3 separate regions of the Homo sapiens genome follow, and all the other regions are linked to region 3. A link means that fine-mapping ties the variant in region 3 to the expression of a gene that starts in the linked region. Tissue or cell type: whole blood. Region 3 holds a variant in brackets; each other region holds the start of a gene. All regions are shown on one strand. Distances are between the middles of the regions.

What was found. PIP is the estimated chance that this variant, and not a neighbour inherited with it, causes the effect.
Region 1: it holds the start of TP53INP2, and the variant in region 3 is fine-mapped to the expression of TP53INP2 in whole blood (TOPMed, PIP 0.96).
Region 2: it holds the start of MAP1LC3A, and the variant in region 3 is fine-mapped to the expression of MAP1LC3A in whole blood (TOPMed, PIP 0.98).

What each region holds. Positions count from the first base shown.
Region 1 is chr20:34,701,938-34,707,764 of GRCh38, forward strand. TP53INP2 (tumor protein p53 inducible nuclear protein 2) reads left to right here and starts at 2,407. Exons shown (of 5, transcript NM_021202.3): 1 at 2,407-2,575; 2 at 3,421-3,537. LOC105372599 (a long non-coding RNA gene) reads right to left here and starts at 2,245. Exons shown (of 2, transcript XR_936690.3): 1 at 2,200-2,245; 2 at 1,722-1,876. RefSeq lists a silencer at 2,203-2,682.
Region 2 is chr20:34,556,308-34,562,134 of GRCh38, forward strand. It overlaps MAP1LC3A (microtubule associated protein 1 light chain 3 alpha), which reads left to right and starts at 2,411. Exons shown (of 4, transcript NM_032514.4): 1 at 2,411-2,601; 2 at 2,901-2,956; 3 at 3,040-3,146; 4 at 3,429-4,038. The coding sequence starts at 2,562. The coding sequence ends at 3,591. PIGU (phosphatidylinositol glycan anchor biosynthesis class U) reads right to left here. Exons shown (of 12, transcript NM_080476.5): 12 at 4,235-4,672. The coding sequence ends at 4,559. RefSeq lists silencers at 2,113-2,202, 2,543-2,592, 4,167-4,216.
Region 3 is chr20:34,483,214-34,489,040 of GRCh38, forward strand. All of the region lies in intron 20 of ITCH (itchy E3 ubiquitin protein ligase), which reads left to right. Among named protein-coding and RNA genes, the nearest start is that of MIR644A, 20 kb to the left of the region's middle. The variant C/T (reference allele first, on the strand shown) is at 3,560.

The DNA.
Region 1 (5,827 bases), 220 kb after region 3:
CCTGCCTTGGCCTCCCAAAGTGCTGGGATTATGGCTGTGAGCCACCACACCTGGCCAAGTAGAATCTTGAAGACAGGAAAGATCTGGATTTCAGAAAGTTCTGAAGAAGGCATTCCAGGCAGGGGAAACAGCTTGAGCAAAAGGGTGGAGGTGGGAGAGTGCTGTAGAGTCAACAAGGAGTTTGACTTTAGCACAAGATGCGTGTAGGAGAAGGGGAGGTGAAGCTGGAGAGAACTGGGGCCGGAGCATGGGGGGCATGAGTTCTGTGTTAGGAGTGTGGGGCTTTAGGAGCCACATCAGGTTTTAGAACAAACAAGTGGCTTGACAGGAGAGACGTGTTAGGGATTATTTAATTAAAGTCAGCAAGTAGGTCTGAAAGGGTATGAGGTTAGCAGGAAGTGGCTGTGATGGGCAGAGGCTCAGAGTTGCATGGAATGAGGACACTTTGGGTATAACACTCCAAGGGCCACAATGCCACTCCCCTCTCCACCCCTCAGCCTTGGGTTATTTTTTTCTGGCTTCTTCCCCTGTCGCTAGGGTTAAGGAGTCCCTTGGGGGTTTCAGATGAGGCTGGGATAGAGTTTTATCACTAGAGTGCCGGGCACGGTGGCTCACGCCTGTAATCCCAGCACTTTGGGAGGCCGAGGCAGGCAGATCACAAGGTCAGGAGACCGAGACCATCCTGGCTAACACTAAACATACAAAAATACAAAAAATACAAAAAATTAGCCGGGCGTGGTAGCGGGCGCCTGTAGTCCCAGCTACTCGGGAGGCTGAGGCAGGAGAATGGCGTGAACCCGGAAGGCGGAGCTTGCAGTGAGCCGAGATCGTGCCACTGCACTGCAGCCTGGGCAACAAGAGCGAGACTCCGTCTCAAAAAAAAAAAAAAAGTTTTATCACTAGATCATTAACCTCTGGCCTAGGTCACCTCCGGCCTCCTTTTGGGCTAGGTGGGCAGTTCTCGGACCCTCCCCCACCAGCCCTGCTCTGCTGACCTAGAACCTCTGGCCCTGGAGATTCTGATATGTGTATTTGTGGTCTCTTCTCGGGCATCTCCCAGGCCACTGGGAGAGCTGGGGCCTAGAGCGTGGGGTGGGTGGAATCCTGAGGGCAGAGAGTGTGGAAGAATCTTACAATGGCAGCTCTAGAGGGAAGCCTGGATATGTTTGTTTGACAAACTGAGACCCAGAGAGGTAACATGACTTGAGGTCACACAGCAAGTCTAGGGCACAGTCAGGACTGAAAGCCAGGACTCTGGGGAGGCTAAAGCGCCCTGAGGTTTAGACCATCTGGTTCATGTAGAGAATGGAGAGGGTCAGGGCTGGGAGCTATGGGTTCAAATCCTGGCTCTGCCATTGACTGTACTTTTGTGACCTAAGAAAGTCACTTGAGCTCTCTGAGTCTGTTTCCTCAACTGTTAAACGGGACAATATCTACCTTTTGGGTTGTTGTGAAGATAAAAAAACACACCCATAGCACAGGTCGTGGCACACAGTAAGTGTGCCAATACATGTCAGCTAGTGGTATGGTGGTGCAATAGTAGGTGCCTAATAAATGTTGAATGCATTGTTGAACATGAGTTCACACGCTAACAGTGAGATTGTGAGACTCAGCTTTCCCACGTGTAAATCAGGACTCATAATCAGTCCCTGTCCTGCCACTTCTTTACAGCCCCGGTAGCAACATAGATTAAATAAGGTATGTAAACGTTCAAGCGCGGAGCCGTCTCAGGTCAATGTTTACTCAGCCCAGGGCAATTCCTCTCCAAGTCCTACTCTGCGAAATTTCACGTCAGCTTCACTAACTTCTCTACATTCCCAGATGCTCCCCGGGAACCGGGGGTTGGGGATGTCCCTCTTTTCTCAAGCCCGCCGAGCTGAGGAAAAACGGGGTGGGAAAGCAGAGTGTGTAAGGCTGAGGAGGTGAGCCAGAGGGGGGAGGGAGAGCAGGAATAAGGGCAGTGGGGAGAATGCAGGTGCACGGACGTGGTGTGGGTCGAGAACAGGGTCCGCATCGGGGGACTTGGATATAGGATGCAGTGAAAGGATTTGGGGAGCAGTGGGAGAGGTGAGGGCGCTGCGATCCGGGAAGAATCAGGAAAATAAGGAGCCGGTAGGAGGGAGTGGAGATCCTCCTCGCGGAGAGCTCGCCGCGGCGCAGGGCTCCCAGCTCCCCGCAGCTGCCTCCCCGAACACTCACCCTCCCGGTTCCGAGAACGTTTCCCGGCCCGAGCGCCCGGCCCGCAAACCGGGAGGGGAGGGGAGGGGAGGGGCAGGGGGGGATCCGCAGCCCGGGATTGGCCGCCGCCCCGCCAGCCGGTGACGCGAGGCGGGCGGGCCCCTTTGTGACGTCACAATCAGCTGTTTGAACGTTCCAATTTGTGCCGTGAGCCCCGCCGCAGCGGCCGCACAGACTCAAAGCCCCGCGGGCGAGCTCAGCAGCCCGGAGCGACCGCGGCCCCGCCGCCTCCCCCGCGAGTCCCGGCGATGCGGCCCGGCCTGTGAGCGGCCGGCGACCCTGGGACGCCCCGCCGCACAACTACCTCAACGCCGTGCCGCCCCCCTCCCGCCCCCAGGTGAGTCCCGACCCGGGTGGGCCTGGGGGCTCCCCTGCCACGGACACGCCCTGCGCCCCCCGCGCCCGGGCCTTTGTCTGTCTCCGCCGGCGGCCGCCGGGGCCGCGTTCCCGGCTCCCGATTGGTTGCCGCACGCCCGGTAGACCATGACGTCGTTCTATTTGCATATGACATTGAGACGTCACCAAGGCCGGTACCGCCCCCACAGGCTCGGGTCGCTTGTCCTCCCGTGACCCGGTAGCCGCTGTGTCGGGGCTGGGCCCTGGGTGAGACGCTGCAATCCAAAGGGGGCTGCAGGGGGATCGGCGATTTCCTAGGCTTATCCAGGGGCTGGGGTCAGGCCTCTGATCCCCTACTTTCTCTTTGCAACCTGAGAAGGAGTCAGACGGCGCTGCTGGGCCTAGGTTGAGGGGGTCGTCAGGAGTTCAGGGCTGCATGGGACTCCAGGTGGTTGGGACAGCACCAGATGGTGGTGGGATCCCCTCCCTCCGGCTCCAGACTCCGCCCCCAGGGACTAACAGAATAACATCCTCCTAATCCCTGATTTGTGTGCAGCGCCTTAGCTGATGTCACTCCTAGACCCAAAATGAAGGGTCTTAGACCCCAGTGCATGGAAGGGGCAACAGGCCCAGAGAGGAGGATTAGCTCTCTCGAGGTCACATAACCAATTAGAGTCATGCTCACTGAGTGACAGATGGATTATTAGCCAGGGGCAAAGACATAATAGGGGCTCAGTACAAGTGGTAAGATACACATCCTCCTTCCACTGGGGACCCGATCTTGGGCTCAGCCTTATCACGGTTTGATAGGCTCCTAGGTGTCCTTACTCCTGGACCCTTTTCCAGGGAATCTCTGGAGATTGGTTCACCTTTTGTGGTCCTGACCCCTTCTGTCCTCACTGTACCTTGAAGTCCTAGAGTCCAATAAAATCGCTGCCTCCCAGCTGTTTGGATCACAGAGAGGTGAGTCATTGGCTGCCTCGGGGTGTCTCCAGGGCTGATGTTGGGGTGGAGGGTGGGGTGAGGGTTCCCTCTATTGGCCCTTTACCTTCCCAACTTCCTAGGTCGTCAGCTAGGAAGGGCCTGACCTGGCCTAGTGCAGACAATTGCAGGTGTTTTGCTGCTCCCTCGTCACCTCTGCCCACAGAGAGTATAGGAGAAGGGATAGGATAAGGAGAGTTTCTGACTTAACAAGTGGATGGGCCTAGAGGCTGAACCAGGAACTCCATTCCTGCTGGGAGTTTGCTCAAGGATGGGCTGGGGGTAGGGGTGGCTTAGGGCACAAATGCTATTCTGGGCAGAGCTGCTGTAGTTATTAAAGGGAATGGTTCTCCCTGGAGCAGAACTGGGAATGTGAGAACCAGGAAGCTGGCAGGGCTGGGAAAGGAAATCTGGGAGGCTCCCCAAGTGGTCAGGAGAGGGGGCAGGCACTGGCTGGCTGGTGACTGCTTTCACTCCTGGCTGTCACTGACTTGCTGTGTGACCTCAGGCAGGGAGCTTTTCCCCTGAGCCTCCCTCCCCTAAACCTATCTGAAATTTGGGGAGGCACAGTGCAGGCTCTGGTACACAGTGGGTCTTCAGTAAATGCATGCTAAATCTTGGTGCCAGTAACCCCAGACCCTTTTGTAGCTAGGCGAGGGGTGGTGTGGCTAGGTCAAGGTCTTTTTCACCTCCCTGTACCCCTGCATCATTGTATTCTTGGGGATTGTTTGCTGAGTCTTTCCTGACTGTGTACACTCTGGACTGGATGCACAGTAACGTGGGACTAGGTCTGCCCTGCCACTATCTAGCCATGTATTTTTGGATAGATTTATGTCTTCTTTCTGATCATCAGATTTTAAAATGGGCTGGGTGAATATGATGGTCCCTGAAACAGCTCTTAACTTCTCTTTCATATTCCATGAATTAGTAGGTTCTTGGAAGGAGGATGTGCCTCATCAAGGCCTCGATATTCCCTTCCTTCAAGAGGGGCCAAACTTTCTGGGCTTTTGGTAATGGAGTCACTAGCTCCCTGTGGCTACATATGGGTTGGGATACATGAATTGTGCTGGGTGGACACTAGTTGGGGGTGGCCCCACCTTCTTAATCCCTGTAGATCTCCCACCCCCATCCCACCAGAGAAGCCAGCATCTTAAGCCTACTGTGAGTCTGCAGATGTGGAAATATTCTCAGGGTATGGAAGTGAGGTGATTCTGCAGCAAGTGTGAAAACATTTCTAGGGAATGGGGGAGGTAGCAATAAGCATGGCAATACTGCAGGTGGATTAGCAGAAAGAGGAGAAATGCCTTCAGGGAAGTCTGGACATGCCCCCAGGAAGTTCTACAGGAAGTGTGGAAACACCCTTAGAGAATGGTGACAAGTGTCTCAGCAGCAAAACCGTTGAGCATCTTTAGGGAACAGGTGTGGAGAGTCAGTCAGGCTTCAGGTACTGGGGGAGTATGGCCAGCAGCCCCCAGCCAAGCTCTAGTCCTGAGGTAGGCTGGCATGGGGAGGGGGTAGATCTAGAGCTACCACCTTGGTGTTTCCATTTCTGCAGTAGGGGGCCTCCCTCTTCATCTTCACCCAGGGAAGGATTGGTTAAGGGCTTACCTCGGTCTGGGTCCAACCCTCAGTGCTCATCCTTAAGGGCTCCTGGGAACTGACAGCTCCCTCCCTTCATCATCACCTCCCACTGACCTGCTGTCTCACTGAGCCCAAGCAACCTGATCTTCCTCCTACCCCTGGATGCTGCCCTTGAACAGGAGCCTGGGAAAAGGGGGTCAGAGGGGGGAGGGCCTGCCGGCATGCCATCTTTACACTTCATATGACAGACACAACCGAGGTGTGCCAAATCACATGGTAAGATGGTAGCAGTTCTATGGGATTTCTGCTGGCCAGTGCTTTTCAAACCACACAGGCTCCAGGAGTGGTTCTTAATCTCTGGGGTCAAAGATTGCTGTTTAGGAAATCATGATGAAAACCAAGGTCCTTTTTCCCAGAAAAATACACATGGACCATGACCCCTGGCCACCAAATTGAAAATATCAAATTCAGACAGACACCCAGAAAAGGCAATAGAATATAGTGATTCTGGGTGCTGCCTCTGGAATCTGATTGTGTGGATTCAATCCCACCTTTGTCTCCTACTAGCTCTGAGACTTTGGGACAGTTAACTTCTCTGAGCCTCAATTTCTTAACTGTAAAGTAAGGACAGTAATTATCCACTTCCTGTAGTTGTTGTGAGGATTACATGAGGTAATATAGGTAAAGCTGC
Region 2 (5,827 bases), 73 kb after region 3:
GAGATTTGTCGTGCACCCTAGTAGTTGGGTCATTTTTGTAAATGTTCCTTGTGTGATTGAAAATAATGTGTTGGTCTCACACAGGTCTGAAATTTAAATTTTAAAAGTTAAAAAACTAACTGTCAGGTTTTCTATTGGGGTTCATTGATCTTGATTAGTAACTGTATTAACATCCTCTATGTCCTTTTTTTTTTGGTTGTTTGGTTTATTAGTTACTCAAAGAGGTCTTATGTCTCCCTATGATGGAGGACCTGGCAATTTCTCCTTGTGTTCTTAATATATTTTCAGCCTCTTTTTTTTTTTTTTCGAGACAGAGTCTCACTCTGTTGCCCAGGCTGGAGGGCAGTGGCGCAATCTCAGCTCACTGCAACCTCCGCCTAGCAGGTTCAAGCAATTCTTGTGCCTCAGCCACCTGAGTAGTTGGGATGACAGGCGTGCACCACCACGCCCAGCTAGCTAATCTTTGTATTTTTAGTAGAGACAGAGTTTTGCCATGTTGGCCAGGCTGGTCTTGAATTCCCAGCCTCTAGTGATCCACCCACCTCGGCCTCCCAAAGTGCTGGGATTACTGGCATGAGCCACTGCGCCTGGCCTATTTTCAGCCTTAAAAACAAAAACCCTGGAACATAGAAGTTCAGAACTTTCCTCTCTTCACAGAGTTCCTCCTCGCATCATTTCATGTTGATCCTCTTATCCCCAGTGTCTTCTGCCTGAAGGCCTATTTTGTCTGAGTTTTCTATAGGTACATCTTTTGGTTAGTTTTTCTCTAGTACACCTTTTCCCATCGTTTTACTTTTTGGTGCCCTTAGGTTTTAAATTTCCTCTTGTAAATAGCATAGAGCTGCATCTTATTTTTTCTTGGCCAATCTGGTCATCTGTGTTTTAAGAGGTGAATGTAAACCACATTTTCTACCTCTGGTTTTGTACTATATATTTACCATCCCTTTTACTTTGCTTCCTTTTTCTCCCTTTCTGCCTTCCATTATAGTTTTAATACCCATCACTACCCTTTTCTCTGCATTGGCAGTTATAGTTCCGTTTGTATTCTTTTGGTGATCCTCTTAAATATCTGAAATACACACCTGACTTTACAAAGCCAGACAATGCTCAGTCTCTTTAACCCCCTCTCAAATTGCCCTCTCAGTCTTCCATGTTCTTGTGTCTCATGCATCTTGTTTCTGTGGCCCACAAATTAATCATTATTATTCATATTGCATATTAAATGCTTGTTTAGATTCACATGTTTACCAATTTGCTCACCATTTTTCCATCTAATTTCTTCCTTTTGGGTTCCATGTCCTTGTTACTAAACTACATTCTTTAAAAATTATTTCGGCGGCCAGGCGTGGTGGCTCACACCTGTAATCCCAGCACTTTGGGAGGCCGAGGCGAGTGGATCACGAGGTCAGGAGATCGAGACCATCCTGGCCAACATGGTGAAACTCCATCTCTACTAAAAATACAATAATTAGCTGGGGGTGGTGGCAGGCGCCTGTAATCCCAGCTACTGAGGAGGCTGACTGAGGCAGGAGAATCGCTTGAACCCGGGAGGCAGAGGTTGCAGTGAGCTGAGATCGCACCACTGCACCCCAGCCTGGCGACAGAACGAGACTTCGTCCCCCTCCCCCCTCCCCCAAAAAAATGTTGATCTTCAGTCTGCGCATTCTGCTCTGGATTTTAAGCATCATTTCTGGCAGCTCTTTTTCAGGAACTGTCTCTGCAGGTCTTTCAGTGTTCGCCTCTGGAGCTCTGCTCGGGCCCGCGAGTTCTCCTGGCGTTGCCATCTGTGCCCTTTTCCTTATTCCCCATCACCTGTCTCTCTGGTGAGCTGCTTCCGATCAGCCTCCAGGTCCACGATTTCTCTTCTGTTGTCCTTTTCTGCCTTCTCACCTCATCCTCTGAGACCTGAATTTCGATGGCTCTACTTTTCAATTATATTATTCTTTTTCAAACCTGGGCGTTCATTTCTAGCATCCTGTTCTATCCTGTGTCTGACTGTGCCTCCCGCACCTTCTCCCTTCTCTCGCCCTAAGCCCCGTGAAGGCGCCGGGCCTTTGGCTCCGGCTGTTTCCCACGGCGCCCAGAACCGCGTCAGTCCTGACACAGACTCGGTGAGGGCGGGAAGTGGTGCCGTGGGGCTGCAGCCTGGCCCGCCCGCTCCATCGGCCTAGGGCGGCCCCACCGCCCTCCGGGCCTTACCTTGAGTTCGGGCTGCGGGAGAAGCTCCCGCGCTGCCCATGACGTCACGGGACTGTGACGCGCCCAGAAGCCCCGCCCCTCGCGTCCCGGTCCGCGGACCCAGGCTCTCTGCGCCGTGACGTCACGGGTCCGGGCGGGCGGGTTGTGCGTCGGCCCAATGGGAGCGGCGCACTGGCCTCCCCTTTAAGGAATGTTGTGACCTGACGTCACCGGGCGAGTTACCTCCCGCAGCCGCAGCCGCCGTGCTCAGCGCGAGCCCCGGAGCCCTTGAGCGCGAGGCGCGGAGCCCCCGGAGCCCCCAAACCGCAGACACATCCCCGCGCCCCAGAGCCCCGGCCTGCGCGCCCAGCCGGGCCCGCGCGATGCCCTCAGACCGGCCTTTCAAGCAGCGGCGGAGCTTCGGTGAGGCCCGGCAGGCGAGCTGCGAGCTCTGGGGCAGGGGTGCCGGCCGACCCCGACTGCCGCAGGTGACGTCAGCCCCGTGACGTCAGGCTCTGGCTGGACCCTCGGGCTGGGACCAGCTCCGGCCTGGGCGGGGGCTGCCCGCTTCCCCACCGCGATAGGTGCCAGGGGCTGTGGGGCCTGATGGCCCCGGGGGTGGGGGCTGGAGCTGGGGCGTGGCCGGGGGCCGCCCCTCCGGGACAGGCGGGGCGGACCTGGGCCGGCCCGACCCGGCCTCACGGTCTGGCCGCTGTCCGCAGCCGACCGCTGTAAGGAGGTACAGCAGATCCGCGACCAGCACCCCAGCAAAATCCCGGTGAGTCCCGCACCCCCAGCCCTGCCCCGCCCCCGCCTCGCGCGTTCCCGACACGACCCCCTGCCCGCCCGCCCTGCTCCCAGGTGATCATCGAGCGCTACAAGGGTGAGAAGCAGCTGCCCGTCCTGGACAAGACCAAGTTTTTGGTCCCGGACCATGTCAACATGAGCGAGTTGGTCAAGATCATCCGGTGCGTGGGCAGCCGCCGCCAGGAGGTGGCTAGGGTCGGGAGGGGAGCCGGGTTCCCGCCGAGAAGGGGTGGGAGTGGGGTCAGGGGTGATGGGACCGGGCGGTGGGCCCCTGTTCTGGGGTGGCTGGAAAGGTCAAGGTCGGGGCTGCAGTCGGTGTTGGGTCAGAGGTGACAGCTGGGGTGAGAATGGGTGTGAAAGGCTGGGAATCATTCTGGGGGTCAGGGCTATGTCCGTCCCGCAGCCAAGCCCCTCACAGCTGCATACTCTCCCGCCGGCTGCAGGCGCCGCCTGCAGCTGAACCCCACGCAGGCCTTCTTCCTGCTGGTGAACCAGCACAGCATGGTGAGTGTGTCCACGCCCATCGCGGACATCTACGAGCAGGAGAAAGACGAGGACGGCTTCCTCTATATGGTCTACGCCTCCCAGGAAACCTTCGGCTTCTGAGCCAGCAGTAGGGGGGCTCGGCCTGGGAGTCGGGCGGCCCCGGTCAGGCCCTGCCCAGAGAGCTCCTGGTTCCTGAACTGAGCTGCCTCTACCGTGGTGGGCTGGGCAGGCATGTGCCCCCCTAGTCAGAGGGCACCAACCCACCTACTCTGCCCCTGGGTGGATCCTGGGCCGGTCGTGTTAGGGTTGTCCCTCTGGGTGCTGGCTGGTGGGATGGGGGAGGGTGGGGAGCAGCTCCCAGCACCCCTGCTGTGTGGTTCATCTTTTTTTTAGGCCCCTGCCTGTCTGCCCATCTGCCCCTCACCCACCCGAGGCTCTGCCCACCGCCTGGACCTGCCCACCCCTGAAAGACTGGCCCCTGGCTCCCCGCCCCTCGGTCTCCACGTGGTGTATGGATCTGTGGTCATTGTCCCTCTGCAGAATAAAGATTGCTCAGGCCTGCCTGGCCCTGTGCCTCCAGCCGCTTGCTTGGGAGTGGGGAGGGTGCTGGTGGGGCTGCCCGCACCATCCCCGGGCTCTGGCGCACAGACTTGTGTTCTGTGGCCGCGGTGCTCGCTCTGGAAACCCACACCTGTGTGTAGTGTTCCAGAACATTATTAGGGGCCACCCCCTCTAGGAGTGCAATGCAGATGTGGTCTCAGGGTAGACTTCATAACAAAAAACATTTATTAAGTAGCCACAATCTAACAAGCCCTGCTCACCTGCCTCTTCTCCTTCCTGTCTGGGAGGGGGCTCCTTGGTGTGCAGAGCCACAAGGTGGGGGTCCAAGTTGGGGAGCTCCCAGTTCTTCCCCATAGGCCTTGCTGTCAGTCAGCCATGGGTCCCTTTTGGTACCAGAGACTTGTGACCCTGGACTCGAACCTCTTCTGCCCAAGCACTCGCCTGCTGGCAACTCTGGCTGGAGGGCTTGGCCCAGCTTCTGGCCCCACAGCCCCCTGAGGTCCATGCAGCCCTGTGCCAGCCAGGCCTACTTGAGCACGAGCATGGCCTCTGTGCCATCCTTGGCGGTCAAGTAGAGGCCATGTGTGAGGTAGTACTCCCGCCGCAGGAAGGCATAGAAGTAATCAGAGATGAGCAGGATCTGGGGGGAGAGAGAGGGTGTGAGGCGCTGCTGGGTACCTCCCCCTAAACCCAGGATCCCTGAACTGCTGGCAGGTGTTGTTGGAAGACAGGAACGCCCCTGCCTGGCTCTGGATCACAATCACTGGAGAGGCCCTCCTCAGGGCCCCCACCTCAGGGCCCATAATTGACCCTGCAAGGTCTGGCCTCTCAGAAGCTGCCTGGACTCCCCCTGCCCCCACCCATGGTCTACACCTCCATCCCAGGCTCTGGCCTCGAATGCCAGCCTGGTGCCTGTGCAACCAGAGGCCTCTGCCCCATCCTCCCACAGCCACTTCCATCCCAGCCAGGTCCACATCAAACTCCTCACCTTCCCTCTGTCAAATACACTTCTCCCACTCAGCATCCATGCCCCCATCTTCCAGCCAGGTGCCCAGGCCACAAAATTGCCCTGACACTTCTCTCATACATCGAGCCACCATGACCTGTCAATTCCCCCTAAACTCAAATCCACCCTTTGGATCCATCCCCACAGTCACTACTCTGGACAGAGCCACTGTCATCTCATCTCCTAAACAACAGCAAAGCTTGGTCCTTGGGCTCCCTGCTCTCAAACCCGTGCCCACCCCATTCTCCCTGGCAGCCAGAGGGAGCTTTTCAAAACCCACATCTGATGGTGTTACTTCCAGCCTTCAAATCCTCCAAAGGCTTCCCAAGCCTTAGGGCAAAGCTCGAACTCCCTCGTGCTCTGAGACCTTGCTAGGGTCCCTGTCCGCCCTCTCCCGGCTCCACCTCACCCCACGGCAGGATCTTTACTGTTTCTTCTGCCTGGAATGTTCTCTCCCCGTTCATCTAGTTGACAGCTGCTTACTCTTCAGGGCTCAGGAAGGATCACTTGCCCCCCAGATTAGTTCTTGGCCCCACTAATCTCTACTCGATAACAGACTCATCGAAAGTGTAATTTTCCATTCAGCTGACAGCCTGACTGTGCCTCCTCCCCTGGCCCGGGGCCTCCATCAGGGCAGGGTCTTCGAATGGTTCTGTCACTATGGTATTTCTGTGCCCAGCTCAGTCTGTCTGTCCCATTCTGGGCCACACACAGAAGAATCAAAGGGAGCCTAGAAGCTCAGCCCACTGTCTCTTCAAGGAGGCCCAGAAAGGAATAGGGATTTGCCAA
Region 3 (5,827 bases):
TGTCTTGGGGATTAACATTCGGGTCCTCATTACTTATGCAAATTTCTGTAGCCAGCTTGAATTTCTCCTCAGAAAATGAGATTTTCTTGTCTATTGCATTGTTGGGCTGCAAATTTTCCAAACTTTTATGCTCTGCTTCCCTTACAAAACTGAATGCCTTTAACAGCACGCAAGTCTCCTCTTGAATGCTTTGCTACGTAGAAATTTATTCCACCAGATACCCTAAATCATCTCTCTCAAGTACAATCGTCTCTCTCAAGTACAAATCCACCAGTCTCTAGCACAGGGGCAAAATGCTGCCAGTCTCTTTGCTAAAACATACAAAGAGTCACCTTTGCTGCATTTCCCAAAAAGTTTCTCATTTCCATCTGAGAACACCTCAGCCTGGACTTTATTGTCCATATTGCTGTCAGCATTTTGGTCAAAGCCATTCAACAAGTCTATAGGAAGTTCCAAACTTTCCCACATTTTCCTGTCTTCTTCTGAGCCCTCCAAACTGTTCCAACGTCTGCCTGTTACCCAGTTCTAAAGTTGCATCCACATTTTCAGTTATCTTCAGCAGCACCCCACTCCTGGTAACAATTTACTGTTTTCACACTGCTGCTAAGACATACTTGAGAGTGGACAATTTACAAAAGAAAGAGGTTTAATGGACTTACAGTTCCACATGGCTGGGGAGGCCTCACAATCATGGTGGAAGGCAAGGAGGAGCAAGGCATGTCTTACATGAATGGCAGCCGGCAAAGAGAGAGCTTGTGCTGGGAAACTCCCATTTTAAAACCATCAGATCTTGTGAGACTTATTCACTATAATGAGAACAACATGAGAAAGGCCCGCCCCCATGATTCAGTTATCTCCCACTGGTTCTCTCCCATAACACATAGGAATTATGGGAGCTACAAGATGTGATTTGGGTGGGGACACAGAGCCAAACTATATCATAAGGTTGGGTAAAATTTATAACTAAAATGATGTTTTATAGTATATCCTTTCTGATTATTTCCATTGGTTCATGCTACTAGTCTCAAGAGCTAATAGTTCATTCATACCTTCTCAATAGCAATTCTTTCCAGCCAGGGTTAAATTTTGCATATTTACTTCTTAAGTTCCAGGTTCTGCATTTCTTGCCTGGTTTTTCCCTCCATAATTGAAAGTATACTATTTAACACAGTGAGCTGTCATTATTTCTTGGACAACAATCTATCCTTTTAAAAGTTTATTTTGAAATCTGCTTTTAAAATGTAGTCAATTCGTTTTTGTCAATTCTCCAGTTTTTTTGTTATGATATGTCTAGATTTTCTTATGACATATATAGCATTCCAGAGAGGTAATGTTTCGAGATTCCAAGAGATGTACTACGTTTCTCAATAGTTTTGTTGCTGGTAAGATAACATTTTAAGATAATGGGCAGCTAAAAAGGTTTTTAGTATCTACTTCAATAATGGCTTGCTTAAAATTTCAGAGTTTGGGGGGTTTTTAGTATTATTTTAAGAAGTATAATTTCCTTAGAATAAAATGCACTGATCTTAAGTGTAGAAGTTGAAATTTGACAAATATATATATCAGCCCAAATGTGAGCATTTTATGGAGAGAAGTTGTGCTAGATCACTCATTTAATTACCAATTCTGTAAACACTGTTCCATATAGCATCATGTCCATGTAAATATGACCCAAATTGTGGAACTTTTTTTTCTATTCTGGACCCCATAAGGGGCCAATGCACACCTCCCTTCTCCCAGCCCCAGAGGTAGGTAACCATTTCTGTTTAGTTCTATTTCTATAACTGTTTCTGATCTTAAACTTCCTAAAATGAAATCATAGAGTATGTACTCTTATATCTAGCTTTTAGTGTCTGATTTTTTCTTTTATTTGGTGTTTGTGAGATTCAGCCATATTGTTTATATCAGTATTTTATTCCTTTTTATTGCTGAGAAATATTCCATGCTGTGTATATCTCAAAATTTGTTTATCCATTCTCTTGGTGATAAATGTTTTGGTTGTTTCTCAGTCTGGGGCTTTTATGAGTAAAGCTGCTATAAACATTCTTGTGATATCTTTTTGTGGACATATTTTTCTTGAGTAAATACCTAGGAGTGAAATCGCTGGGAAGGTGTTTGACTTTATTAGAAACTGCCAGTTTCCCAAAGTGTTTTTGCCATTTTGCAGTCCTACTAGTAGTATTTGAGAGTTGCTTCACGTTCTTGCCAATTCAGCATTGTCAGTAATATCTCGTGGTTTTAATTTCCATTTCTTCCTTGACTAATGGTGTCAAGTACGTTTTTCTATGCATATTGATCATTTGTAGCTCTTCTTTTGTGATGTGTGTATCCAAATCTTTTATCCATTCTAAAATTGGGTTGTCTTTTTATTTGTGATTGTTGGAGTTCTTAAATATTTCAGATCATTGATTTTAGAAACTCTTCTCTTTCCCTTCTTCCCTCCCTCTTCTTACCTTTTCTTACGATACGTCTAGATTTCGTTCTTCTTTGACGGAGTCTTGCTCTGTTGCCGAGGCTGAAATACAGTGGCACGATCAGAGCTCACTGCAGTCTTAAACTCCTGGGATCAAAGGATCCCCCTGCCTCATCCTTCTGAGTAGCTGGGACTGTAGGCACAAGCCACTGTGCCCAGCAAATTTTTTGGTTGTTTTTATTTTTGTAGAGATGTGGTCTTGCTATTTTGCACAGGCTGGTCTCAGACTCCTTGCCTTAAGCTATCCTCCCACATTCTGTTTTCTAATATAAGGATTTAAAGCTGCATATTTCCAACTAAGTATTTCTTTAGCTATATCCCACAATTTTTTGTTGTTTTTTTTGAGATAGAGTCTCACTCTGAGGTTGCCCAGGTTGGAGCGTAGTGGTAGAGTCATGGTTCACTGTAGCCTCAACCTCCTGAGCTCCAGATAGCCTCCCACCTCAGCCTTCCAGGTAGCTGGAACCACAGGCATGTACTACCATGCCTGGCTTACTTATTTATTTATTTATTGTAGGAGATGGGTCTTACTATGTTACCCAGGCTGGTCTCCAAACTCCTGGATCCAAACGATACTCCCACTTTGGTCTCCCAAAGTGCTGGAATTATAGGCATGAGCCGCCGCATCCAGTCCACACCTTTTTTTTTTTTTCCCCCGAGACAGAGTCTTGCTCTGTCGCCCAGGCTGGAGTGCAGCGGTACAATCTTGGCTCACTGCAACTTCCATCTCCTGGGTTCAAGTGATTCTTCTGCCTCAGCCTCCCGAGCAGCTGGGATTATAGGCACCCGCCACCACGCCTGGCTAATTTTTGTATTTTTAGTAGAGACGGGGTTTTGCCATGTTGGCCGGGCTTGTCTTGAACTCTTGACCTCAGGTGATCCGCCTGCCTCAGCGTCCCAAAGTGCCTGGATTACAGGCATGAGCCACCACGCCCAGCCACAAATTTTGGAATGTTGTGTTTTTCACTATTTTATTTATTTTATTTATTTATTTATTTATTATGTTTTATTTTTATTATTAATATTTTTGAGACAGGGTCTCACTTTGTCACCCAGGCTGGAGTGCAGTGGTGAAATCTTGCCTCA[C/T]GGCAGCGTCCAATTCCAGAAGTTCAAGCGATCCTCTAGCCTCAGCCACCAAGCAGCTGGGACTACAGGCATGTGCCACCACACCCACATGACGAGATGGGGTTTCACCGTGTTGCCCAGGCTGGTCTTGAACTCCTGTGCTCAAGGGATCCACCCACCTCAGCCTCCCAAAGTGCTGGGATTACAGATGTCAGCCACCACATCCAGCCACTCTCATTGTATTTAAAAGTATTTGTTAGGTTTTTTTTTTTTTTTTTTTGAGACGTAGTCTCTCTGTCACCCAGGCTGGAGTGCAGTGGTGCCATCTTGGCTCACTCTAAGCTCCGCTCCCTGGGTTCACGTCATTCTCCTGCCTCAGCCTCCGGAGTAGCTGGGACTACAGGCGCCTGCCACCACACCTGGCTAATTTTTTTGTATTTTTAGTAGAGACAGGGTTTCACCGTGTTAGCCAGGAAAGTCTCAATCTCCTGACCTCGTGATCCCCTCACCTCAGCCTCCCGAAGTGCTGGGATTACAGGCATGAGCCGCCGTGCCCAGCCAGGTCTTATTTTTATCCTGATAATCTCTACTTTATAATTGGAGTGTTCAGTACATTTATGTTTAATTTTATTACTGATTTGGTTGGACTTTTGTCTAACCATTGCTATTTGTTTTGCTATTTGTCTCGCCTTGCTATTTGTTTCTTATTTTTCCCAACTTTCTTTGTTCTTTCTTGCCTTCTTTGAATAAAGCAATTTTTACTTTCTTTTTTAGCTCTTCTGTTGGTTTTTTAGCTATACCTCTTTGTTTAACTTTAGTGGCAACTCTAATGATTATGATAATATGCATCTTTAACATCCCTGTTGACCCAAACACTACTTCTTGTACAATATAAGAAGCTCATAGGCCAGGTGCGGTGGCTCACACCTGTAATTCCAGCACTTTGGGAGGCTGAGGTGGGCAGATTGCCTGAGGTCAGGAGTTCGAGACCAGCCTGGCCAACATGATGAAACCCCGTCTCTACTAAAAATACAAAAATCAACTAGGCATGGTGGCAGGCACCTGTAATCCCAGCTACTTGGGAGGCTGAGGCATGAGAATCGCTTGAACCCAGGTGGCGGAGGTTGCAGTAAGTCGAGATCACGCCATTGCGCTTCAGCCTAGGGGACAAGAGCGAGACTTCGTCTCAAAAAAAAAGAAAAGAAGCTCATAATAATATAATTCCATTTACCTCACTCCAGCTCTTTGTGGTGTTGTTGTCATATATTATTTCTACGTGTCACAAATATAATACTTTGTTACTGTTATTCTTGCTTTAATTTTTAACTATTTTCAAAAATAATCTTATATTTACTCACATTACTATTTCTGGTTCTCCTTATTTCTTTCCTCAGATTCATTTTTTTTTTTAAATCTAAGATAATTTCCCTTTGGCTTTAAAAAAAAAAACCTTTCTTTACCATTTCACTTAGTGTGCATCTCTTGGTGATGCATTTTCTCAGCTTTTATATGAAAACATCTTTATTTCACCTTCATTTTTTGAAGGATATTGTCACTAGATTTAGAATTCTAGGTTTATAAAATAATGATGCGGTCATGTTTTTATGATTTATGTTTTAAAAAATAATCCTCATGTCGTAGAGACAAATACTGAAGTATTTGTTCAAAATGAAATTATCTGGGCTGGGCGTGGTGGTTCGTGCCTGTAATCCCAGCACTTTGGGAGAAGGCAGGCAGAACACTTAAGGTCAGGAGTTCAAGACCAGCCTGGCCAACATGATGAAACCCCCGTCTCTACTAAAAACACAAAAATCAGTTGGGTGTGGTGGCGCACGCCTGTAATGCCAGCTACTCGGGAGGCTGATGCACAAGAACTGACTGAACCTGGAAGGTGGAGGCTGCAGTGAGCCCAGATTGTATCATTGCACTCCAGCCTGAGTGACAGAGCGCGACCCTGTCTCAAAAAACAAAAACAAAATAAAAGAAAAAAAAAGAAATTATATGGCTTGGCAATGGTGGCACACGCTTGTAATCGTAGCACTTTGGATGGCGGAGGCAGGAAGATCACTTGAGGCCAGATATTTAAAACCAGCCTTGGCATCACAGAGAGACACCATCTCTACATACAAAACCAAAAATCAGCCAGGCGTGGTGTTGCACACCTATATTCCCAGCTACTCGGGAGGCCGAGGTAGGAGGATTGCTTGAGCCCAGGAGGTCGAGACTGCAGTGAGCCAAGATTGTGCCACTGTGCTTCAGCTCAGGTGACAGAGTGAGACCTCATCTCAA